Linked DNA regions of Homo sapiens: region 2 is linked to region 1. The links come from fine-mapping of genetic effects on gene expression. Tissue or cell type: whole blood. Region 1 holds a variant in brackets; the other region holds the start of a gene. All regions are shown on one strand. Distances are from middle to middle. Region 1 overlaps CC2D1A (coiled-coil and C2 domain containing 1A). Region 2 holds the start of CC2D1A (coiled-coil and C2 domain containing 1A).

Region 1 (5,366 bases):
AGAGACGGGATTTCACCGTGTTAGCCAGGATGGTCTCGATCTCTTGACCTCGTGATCCGCCCACCTCGGCCTCCCAAAGTGCTGGGATTACAGGCGTGAGCCACCACTCCCGGCCTTTTTTAAAATTTTTTTTCTGAGACAGTCTCACTTTGTCACCCAGGCGGGAGTACAGTGGCGCAATCTCAGCTCACTTCAACCTCTGCCTCCCAGGTTCAAGCAATTCTCCTGCCTCAGCCTCCCAAATAGCTGGGACTACAGGTGCCCACCACCATGCCCAGCTAATTTTTGTATTTTTAGTAGAGACGGGGTTTCATTCAGTTGGCCAGGCTGGTCTCCTTAAATGATCCGCCTGCCTTGGCCTCCCAAAATTCTGGGGTTACAGGAGTGAGCCACTGCGTCCGGCCCATTTTCTCCACTTTCTAAATGAGGTTAGGTGCAGCCACTAGCCCTCCGGTGGTTCCCAGCTGCCCTTGGGATAACCCCCACCCCTTACCCTGGCTCCCCCATCTCCACACAGCCTGGCTCCTTGTCACCTCTTCTCTGCCTCCTGTCCCCGCTTCACTCAGCTTTGGCCACAAGGGACTCTTTTTGGTCCCTCCTACAAACAAAGTGTGTTCCTACCCCAAGCCTCTGCATCAGCTATTTCTTCCGCCTTCACCCTCTTCCTCAGGTCTCCATGTGGCAGCTCCCTCTTGACATCTAGAGTCACCTATGATGTCACCTTCCCTCTAAGAGGCCCTCCCTATCTATCCGAGCAGTCTCTTCTGAGCACACTCCACTCTCCCCTCTCTGCTGAGTTTTTTATTGTTTTTCTATTTATGTACTTATGCTCATCTGTCCACTCAGCTAGATTGAGCACAGGGTATGGGTATTTACTTCTAGATCCCCAGCAGCTAGGGTACTGACTGGCACATAGTAGGTGCTCAAGAAATATTGTGAAATGAGGCCAGGCGTGCTGGCTCACGCCTGTAATCCCAGCACTTTGGGAGGCTGAGGTGGGTGGATCACGAGGTCAGGAGATCGAGACCATTCTGGCTAACATGGTGAAATCCCGTCTCTACTAAAAATACACAAAATTATCCGGGCGTGGTGGTAGGCGCCCATAGTCCCACCTTCTTAGGAGGCTGAGGCAGGAGAATGGCATGAACCTGGGAGGCAGAGCTTGCAGTGAGCAGAGATCGCACTGCACTCCAGCCTGGGCGACAGAGTGAGACTGTCTCAAAAAAAAAAGAAATATTGTGAAATGAATAGAAGGTCCCCCAGCAACTAGGACACTAGCTGGTGCTTTAATAGGACTCAAAAAATATTAAGTGAGGCCAGGCTGGGAGGCCAAGGCAGGCGGATCATTTGAGGTCGGGAGTTCGAGACCAGCCTGGCCAACATGGTGAAACCCCATCTCTACTAAAAATATAAAAATTATCCAGCAGTGGTGGCGGGCAGCTGTAATCCCAGCTACTCAGGAGGCTGAGGCAGAAGAATCTCTTGAATCTGGGAGGTGGAGGTTGCAGTGGGCTGAGGTCGTACCATTGTACTCCAGCCTGGGCGACAGAGCAAGACTCTGTCTAAAAAAAAAAAAAAAATATATATATATATATATATATATATACACGTATATATATGTGTATATATATATACATATATGTGTGTATATATATATATACGTATATATATGTGTATATATATATATATACACGTATATATATGTATATATACACACACACACACACACACACATATATATTAAGTGAAAAGAAGGTCCCCCAGCAGCTGGGGTACTGGCTGGCACATAGTAGGTGCTCAAGAAACATTGGGAAATGAAGGAAAGATCTCCCAGCAGCTAGGGCACTGGCTGATGCTTAGTAGGACTCAACAACTGTTAAGTGAAGGGAATATCACCCAGCAGCTAGGGTACCTAGCACACAGTAGATACCAAATAAATATACACAGACTGAAGAAAAGACTCGAAAGTGATCCATTGCCAACCTGAACAGAGAACTCTAGTCTGTCTGATTCTAAAATGAGCCCAGGAGCTGAGACACCCCCGAAGGCCAGGGTGGGGTTTGTTCCCTGCCCCCACTGGGGGAAGAGAAGGCAGGCGGGCAGTGGGACTGAGGTGCCTCTGTTTCCCTGCCCACCTGCCTGCCCACCTGCCCACCCGGAAGGATCTTCCCTGACCTCAGCAGCAACGACATGCTCCTCTTCATCGTGAAGGGCATCAACTTGCCCACACCCCCAGGTGAGGGGGCTGTAGGCAAGGGTCAGGGTCATGGGGACCCCCTCTCTGCCCAGCTCTGACCGTTGTTTGCCCACAGGACTGTCCCCTGGCGATCTGGATGTCTTTGTTCGGTTTGACTTCCCCTATCCCAACGTGGTACGTGGGGAGCTGAGGAGGGGAGGGCTGCAGCCTCAGTGGGCCAAAGCCAGGTCCCAGGCCCCCTAGATTTCCTGCCTCCTCTCTGGTCATAGGAAGAAGCTCAGAAAGACAAGACCAGTGTGATCAAGAACACAGACTCCCCTGGTGAGCCTCGGCTGGAAGCACCCTACCCCTACTCCCTTGCAGCAGAAGGGACATAAGACAATGGCCTGACCCCACCCAACTT[C/T]CTCTCCCTCCTTCCTCCTGCAGAGTTCAAGGAGCAGTTCAAACTCTGCATCAACCGCAGCCACCGTGGCTTCCGAAGGGCCATCCAGACCAAGGGCATCAAGTTCGAAGTGGTTCACAAGGGGTGAGCTAGAGAGAGCCATGGCCGCTGGGTGGGCTCCAGGGGAGGGGAGCTCCTCTGAACCAACCATCCTGTCCCCACTATACACACATGCACACAGGGGGCTGTTCAAGACTGACCGGGTGCTGGGGACAGCCCAGCTGAAGCTGGATGCACTGGAGATAGCATGTGAGGTCCGGGAGATCCTTGAGGTGAGAGGTGGACATTCATCCGCGTGCTCCGGTATGGCCATGCTACTCGTTAACATTATTAAAACACTTCCTGCCTTGAGCCCTCTATGAGCCTGTCTGTTGACCCAGCCCCTCCCCTCAGAGCCTCAGACCTCCCTACTGCCCAGCCCTAAATACTTGCAGTACCCCACTCCATTATGATCAACTGGTATCTCAGCCATACCATGGGCTCATATTTTAGAAACCACTCTTGGCCAGGCATGGTGGCTCATGCCTGTAATCCCAGCACTTTGGGAGGCTGAGGCGGGCAGATCACGAGGTCAGGAGATCGAGACCATCCTGGCTAACATGGTGAAACCCTGTTTCTACTAAAATACAAAAAAATTAGCCAGGCATGGTGGCGGGCGCCTGTAGTCCCAGCTACTCGGGAGGCTGAGGCAGGAGAATGGCGTAAGTAAACCCAGGAGGCGGAGCTTGCAGTGAGCCCAGATTGCACCACTGCACTCCAGCCTGGACAACAGAGCGAGACTCTATCTCAGAAAAAAAAAAAACCAAAAAAAAAAACCAGTCTTGTTCTCCCTTGTCCTGGCCCTGGGCCTCTAGTCACTTCCTGCTTCCCACCAACAGTTTCTCCTTACCCCCACCCAGGTCCTGGATGGTCGCCGGCCCACAGGGGGGCGACTGGAGGTAATGGTCCGGATTCGGGAGCCACTGACAGCCCAGCAGTTGGAGACGACGACAGAGAGGTGGCTGGTCATTGACCCTGTGCCGGCAGCTGTGCCCACAGTGAGACCCCCCACCCCCACCCATCAGCAACCCCAGGGAGGGAAGCTTGGTTCAGGGGCCCAGGACTCACAGGACTGGTTCTCTCCTCTGAAGCAGGTTGCTGGGCCCAAAGGGAAGGCCCCTCCTGTGCCTGCCCCTGCAAGGGAGTCAGGGAACAGGTAGGTATCTGGGCCAGGGCATGCTGGAGAAAACACCCAATTCCCCTCTCAGCCCCACCTGGACAGTTTCCCACCAGGCACAAATTGGACCACGTCCCTCTCCTGCTGCAAAACCTTTCTTGGCACCCCTTTTCCCAGAGGATCCAGTTTAAACTCCTTGGTTTGGTCTTTAAAACCTTTTGTGATCTGACCATTGTCAACATATCCAGGCTTCTCTCTCCCTACTCCCTCCTGTGGTTCATGTCCATGAATAGTTTTCACTGGCCTCTGGACTTCTGTGGGTTCCAGTGCCCTGAACACCCCTACCTAGGGTAGGGGTGTTCCTTGTTCCTCTGCCCACCTCTGATTCCTTCTTTGGATCCCAACTTGGCTGTTACCTCCTCCAGGAAGCCCTCCCTGACCACTAGGCATCATAGTTTCCTGGGTGTGCAGCCATCATCCCCGCTAGGTTTTGGGATCAGTAACACCGGGTGGTTCTCGGCTGTCTCCCACCATACCCCCAGTGCCCAGTGTGTCTTTTTTTTTTTTTTTTTTTTTTGAGACAGAGTCTAGCTCTGTCGCCCAGGCTAGAGTGCAATGGCGCGATCTCAGCTCACAGCAACCTCCGCCTCTGGGGTTCAAGCGATTCTCCTGCCTCAGCCTCCTGAGTAGCTGGGATTACAGGCATGCGCCACCACACCCAGCTAATTTTTCTATTTTTAGTAGAGATGGGGTTTCTCCATGTTGGTCAGGCTGGTCTCGAACTCCCGACCTCAGGTGATCTGCCTGCCTCGGCCTCCCAAAGTGCTGGGATTACAGGCATGAGCTACCATGCTCGGCTTTTTTTTTTTTTTGAGACAGAATCTTGCTCTGTCACCCAGGTTGGAGTGCAGTGGTGTGATCTCGGCTCATTGCAACCTCCAGCTCCCAGGTTCAAGCAATTCTTCTGCCTCAGCCTCCCAAGTAGCTGGGACTACAGGAGCACACCACCATGCCCAGCTAATTTTTTTTCTATTTTTAGTAGAGACGGGGTTTCACCATATTGGCCAGGCTGGTCTCGAACTCCTGACCTCATGATCCACTCACCTCCGCCTCCCAAAGTGCAGGGATTACAGGCGTGAGCCACTGTGCCCAGCCCAGTGTGTCTTTTGAATTAACAGGGTTGGGCTGGGGGAATCTCTGCAGTCCCTTATCCTTCCTCCACCCCTTAGATCAGCCCGGCCCCTGCATAGCCTCAGTGTGCTGGCGTTTGACCAAGAGCGTCTGGAGCGGAAGGTGGGTATCCATCCTGCCGGGCTACATGGGGCAGGACTGGGGAGTCTGCAGGCCCAGGCAGGATCCTCACAGGACCCTCTGTATCCTCTAGATCCTGGCCCTCAGGCAGGCGCGGCGGCCGGTGCCCCCAGAAGTGGCCCAGCAGTACCAGGACATCATGCAACGCAGCCAGTGGCAGAGGGCACAGCTGGAGCAGGGGGGTGTGGGCATCCGACGGGGTAGGGGTTTGGAGATGGGCATCTGGTGGGGGAGGAGCTCCAGGATAGGCATGGGGGGGG
Region 2 (5,366 bases), 21 kb before region 1:
ACAGATACTAATCCACATGTGAGCTCTAAGGGCAGGATTCTTCACCTTGGAGGACATTTGGGGCTGGATCATTCTCTGTGGCTGGGGGGCATCCTATGCATGGTAGGATATTTGAGCAGCATCCCTGGCCTCCACCCACTAGATGTCAGTATAATTTCCCCAGTTATGAAAACCAAAAAAAGTCTCTAGGCCGGGCACGGTGGCTCCCACCTGTAATCCCAGCACTTTGGGAGGCTGAGGCAGGCAGATCACCTGAGGTCAGGAGTTTGAGACCAGCCTGGCCAACATTGTGAAACCCTATCCCTACTAAAAATACAAAAATTAGGCGGGCGTGGTGGTGCACATCTGTAGTCCCAGCTACTTAGGAGGCTGAGGCTGCAGAATCGCTTGAACCCAGGAGGTGGAGGCTGCAGTGAGCCAAGATCTTGCTACTGCACTCCAGCCTGGACGACAGAGTCAGACTTGGTCTCCAAAAAAAAAAAAAATAAAGTCTCCAAACATTGCCAGCTGTCTCTGGAGGTCAAAATCCCTTCCTCTCACCTAGTTGAGAAACACTGCTCTAAAGGAAAGGGTAGTGGCTTTTATTATCCCCAATTTACAAAAGGGGAAACTGTGGCACAGAGGAAATCATCCACCACCACACACTGAGCAGAACTGGGATGAACCCAGGTTTTGGGCCCCAGAGTAAAACACTCAGCCACATACCGAGTGGCCTTGTAGTACATCAAGCATTATTCCAGGGGTCATCTCTGGGACTGGTTCCGCAGGGAGGCTGTCCCGCTGCCCTGAAGCCCGGGGAGGCCTCCTCTAAGCTGTGGGACCCCACCAGAGGCTTGCAGAAGCTCCAGAAAACTTTCACTTTTACTTTTCCTGTATGCCCTCTCCGTTATTTCTATTTTTCTTTCTTTCTTTTTTTTTTTGAGACAGGGCCTCAATCTATCAGTCAGGATGGAGTGCAGTGGTACGATCTGGATTCACTGCAACCTCCACCTCCCAGTTCAAGCAATCTTCCTGCCTCAACCTCCTGAGTAGCTGGGACTACAGGTGCCTGCCACCACGCCCAGCTAATTTCCTTACTTTACATTGTAGAGACAGGATCTCGCTATGTTGCCCAGGCTGGTCTTGAACTCCTGGACTCAAGCGATCCGCCCACCTCGGCCTCCCAAAGTGCTAGGATTACAGGCGTGAGCCACCACACCGGCCTTCTATTTTTCTTACCAGCATGAATTAAATCCTTTTTGTCTTTTTCTTTTTTTTGAGACAGAGTCTTGCTCTGTTGCCCAGGCTAGAGTGCAGTGGCACCATCTTGGCTCACTGCAACATCGGACTCCCAGGTTCAAACGATTCTCCTGCCTCAGTCTCCCGAGTAGGTGGGACTACAGGCATGTGCCACAACACCTGGCTAATTTTTGTATTTTTAGTAGAGACGGGGTTTCACCATGTTGGTCAGGCTGGTCTTGAACTCCTGACCTTGTGATCTGCCCGCCTCGGCCTCCCAAAGTGCTGAGATTACAGGTGTGAGCCACCGCACCCGGCCAATCCTTGCTTCCTTTTAAGGAGGTTAAGGCAGTCGTGTTAGCCAGATCTGCAATAAACAAGCCCACATTCTTCCCACAAGCAGAAGCAGAAATCAACAAGTGTCCATTTGAATGAACGTACCTGAGGTCCGCAGCTTCTTCCTCTTAGTCATTTTATCTTCCCCTTGAGAAATCTGAAAACAAGCAAAATCTCTCATCATTATAAGCAGTCTCTGTCTCTGTTTATATCCAGTGGCTTTGGCTGAGAGCAGAGGTTACCCCTACCTCCACCTCAGCCCATTTGGCTGCCCCAGGGGTCAGATGGCTCCCACTGGGACACAGGATGGGACACAGAGTCACAGCCACTTTGGGCCATGGCCAGGTAGGAATTCAAACCTCCTCCAAACTGAAGATCTTATGCCCAGGACCTGAAAGACAAATGGGCCCTGGGGGGTCCTTATAGATAGCCCCGGGGACCCAGACTCTGGTCCCTAGGATGAAACAGCCTGTGTGAAGCCCCTCCCTCCAGACTGGGGTATCTGGGGGCCCTTCCAAGGACACTTGAGGACTCTCCAGGGGCCTCTGGAGACCAGCCTGGCCAATATGGTGAAACCCCCTCTCTATTAAAAACACAAAAATTAGCCTGGGCATCGTGACGCACACCTGTAATCCCAGCTACTTGGGAGGCTGAGACAGTAGAATTCCTTGAACCCATGAGGCAGAGGTTGCAGTGAGCCGAGATCGCTCTACTGCACTCCAGCCTGGGCGACAGAGCGAGACTCCGTCTCAAAAAAAAAAAAAAAAATTAGTCAGGTGCGGTGGCACACACCCGTAATCCCAGCTACTCAGGAGGCTGTGGTACAAGGCCAGGAGGCAGAGGTTGCAATGAGCCAAGATCGTGCCACTTTAAAGGGGACAGCTGGGTCCTTGGAGGGGAAAGAGCTGCCATAGGCCGGTTTCTCCCAGCCTTGGGGGCGAGGCAAACCAGAACGGACCTGGGCCACAGAAGTCGTTGAGGACCCTCTGTCCTTATCAGAAACGAGCTCTGCCTGGATCAGTTGGGAATAAGTCGCTTGAATTATCCGCGTTACTCTTTTTGGAAAAAATAAATGGCCAAATTGGCCCTCACAGAACGCTGGAGGCCTCGAGTCCGGAGGTGAAAGATGGAAAGGCCTGAGGGTGGGCGCTGTAGACCCCGCTCCCGGTGACAAGCCCCACACTGACACTACGCCGACCACCGAGAAGTGAGGACTCCACAGGCCGAGAGCCCACGTGAAGCCGGAGCCCGTCGGTGACTGACAGACGCTCTGAACCCCACAGATGTCGCCGCCCCTCACACCTGCGCGCGCTCTGCCTCTTTCCCGCGCCCCGCGAGGTCCCGCCCCGCGCATGAGCGACGCAAACACCGCCCTCGCAGCCCGCGACAGTCAGCACCGCCCCAGCCAGGCGCCTGCGCGCCCACGCACTACCTGCCGGGAGTTGTAGTTTCGGCTCGGCAGACCCGGCGAGCCCAGTGGCCGCGCTCCGGTGCGGCGGCGCCCGAGGCCCGAGGCGGAAGTGGGACGGCCAAGCAGGGAAGCGAGGGCTCGGGATCGACGGCCGCGGGGCGCCGACGAGGAGTGCAGGACTCAGGAAGGGCGAGTGCGCGGCGACAGAGCCCGGGGAAGGAGGCAGGGCAAGGCCGGGCTTGGGGGCAGGTGGTCCGGGCATCCAGCCTTGAAGATGCACAAGAGGAAAGGACCCCCGGGACCCCCGGGCAGAGGCGCCGCGGCCGCCCGCCAGGTGAGTTTGCGCCCCACGGCCCGACCTGGGGATCCCTCCCCACCCCCGTCACTCGCTCAGGGAAGGGCCCCACCCCCCAGGGAAGCCCGATCTCCGCCCCACAGGTAAGCCCCGGTCCCCGCCTCCCCCCAGGTGAGGCTCCAACACCACCCAAGTGTGGCCTACTGGCCTTGGCTCCCCAGCTCCTGGGGCCCTGCCCCGGGTTCGGGGCCACCTGTTGCCACAGCTGCTCCAGTCGAGGAGGGGCAGTCCTCGGACTTGACACATCAAACCCTTGCATCAGTCGGGCCATGTCAGACTCTTTTTATTCCATTGTACAGATGAGGACTTTGAGACTCAGAGACGTGAAGACATCTGCCCAAGGTCATAGGGATTAACAGCTTGGCCAGGGCTAAGCACAAATCCAGGGCTGCAGCCATAAGCTTATGGCACTGTGGCTGGACCCCTTCTCACTCTCCCGACTTCTTTGCCCCAGGCACCAGATAGTTTGATTTTTCTCAGTTTTGATGGAAGGAGCCCAGGACATAGCTTGGTGTTCAGATATTAGAGTCTGGCTGACCTGAAGTTCCCTCCTGGCCTCTGTACATCGGACACTTGACTTTACAGCTCTGAGCCTCAGCTTTCTCATCTGTAAAATGGAGATCTCTATAATCCCAGCACTTCAGGAGATGGAGGCGGAGGCAGAGGTGGGAGAGTCATTTGAGGCCAGAGTTTGAGACCAGCCTGGGCAAAAGCAAGACCCCCGTCTCGACAAAAAAAGACTAACTGGGCATGGTGGCATGTGCCTGTAGTACTACTACTTGGGAGGCTAAGAAGGGAGGATTGCTTGAGCCCAGGAGTTCAAGACCGCAGTGAGCTATGATTGCGCTACTTCTGCTCCAGCCTGGGTGACAGAACAAGACTCTTTCTCTAAAATAAAGATAAAAAATTAAAAATGGAAGTCCGGGGTGGTGTCTCACACCTGTAATCCCAGCACTTTGGGAGGCCATGGCGAAACCCCATCTCTACTAAAAATACAAAAATTAGCTGGGCATGGTGGCGGGCACCTGTAATCCCAGCTACTCGGGAGGCTGAGGTGGGAGAATCGCTTGAACCGAGAGGCGGAGGTTGCAGTGAGCTGAGATCGCGCCACTGCATTCCAGACTGGGTGACAGAGCAAGGCTCCTTCTCAAAATAAATAAATAAATTCCTTCTGAAAATAAATAAATAAATAAAAAATTAAAAATGGAGACCTCCAAGAGACCCTACATTACAGGACAGTTGTAGAGAGTCATTGAGATAGTTTATGGAAAGTGCTAGAACATAGCACTCAATAAATGTTACTATTATCATTATTACTAGTTGGTGGAACCATACATAATTGCCAATATTTGGCCATTTTTTACCTACAGGAAAGGCAATTTCATATGGTTAAACACGATGTTATCACATCATGATTGGTCATTAGCCAAGATAGGAAGACGGGTCTGCATGGCAAACCTGCATTGTGGTTAGGGGTTCTTTTTTTGTTTGTTTGTTTTTGAGACAGAGTCTTGCTCTCTCGCCCCAGGCTGGAGTGCAGTGGCGCAATCTCGGCCCACTGCAACCTCCGCTTCCCGGGTTCAAGCGATTCTCCTGCCTCAGCCTCCCGAGTAGCTGGGATTACAGGCATGCGCCACCATGCCTGGTTAATTTTGTATTTTTTAGTAGAGACGGGGTTTCTCCCTGTTGGTCAGGCTGGTCTGTCTCGAACTCCCCATCTCAGGTGACCCGCCTGCCTCGGCCTCCCAAAGTGCTGGGGTTACAGGCGTGAGCCACCGTGCCCGGCCTAATTTTTGTATTTTTAGTAGTGATGGGATTTCACCATGTTGGCCAGGCTAGTCTCGAACTGCTGACCTCAGGTGATCCCCCCACCTTGGTCTCCCAAAGTGCTGGGATTACAAGCGTGAGCCACTGCACCTGGCCCTGTCGTCAGGGCTTCTAATTGCTCTTCTTTTTTTTTTGGAGACAGAGTCTTGCTCTGTTGCCCAGGCTGGAGTTTGGTGGCGCAATCTCAGCTCACTGCAACCTCCACCTCCCAGGTTCAAG

What was found.
Region 2: it holds the start of CC2D1A, and the variant in region 1 is fine-mapped to the expression of CC2D1A in whole blood (TOPMed, PIP above 0.99). The same link has a PIP of 0.9 or more in lung.

The regions. Positions count from the first base shown.
Region 1 is chr19:13,924,355-13,929,720 of GRCh38, forward strand. It overlaps CC2D1A (coiled-coil and C2 domain containing 1A), which reads left to right. Exons shown (of 29, transcript NM_017721.5): 18 at 2,163-2,236; 19 at 2,313-2,371; 20 at 2,467-2,518; 21 at 2,624-2,723; 22 at 2,821-2,911; 23 at 3,539-3,676; 24 at 3,770-3,834; 25 at 5,025-5,088; 26 at 5,180-5,306. Among named protein-coding and RNA genes, the nearest start is that of PODNL1, 11 kb to the right of the region's middle. The variant C/T (reference allele first, on the strand shown) is at 2,601.
Region 2 is chr19:13,903,203-13,908,568 of GRCh38, forward strand. It overlaps CC2D1A (coiled-coil and C2 domain containing 1A), which reads left to right and starts at 2,999. Exons shown (of 29, transcript NM_017721.5): 1 at 2,999-3,299. The coding sequence starts at 3,240. It overlaps BRME1 (break repair meiotic recombinase recruitment factor 1), which reads right to left and starts at 2,915. Exons shown (of 9, transcript NM_001345843.2): 1 at 2,513-2,915; 2 at 1,660-1,711. The coding sequence starts at 1,690. RefSeq lists a silencer at 3,314-3,373.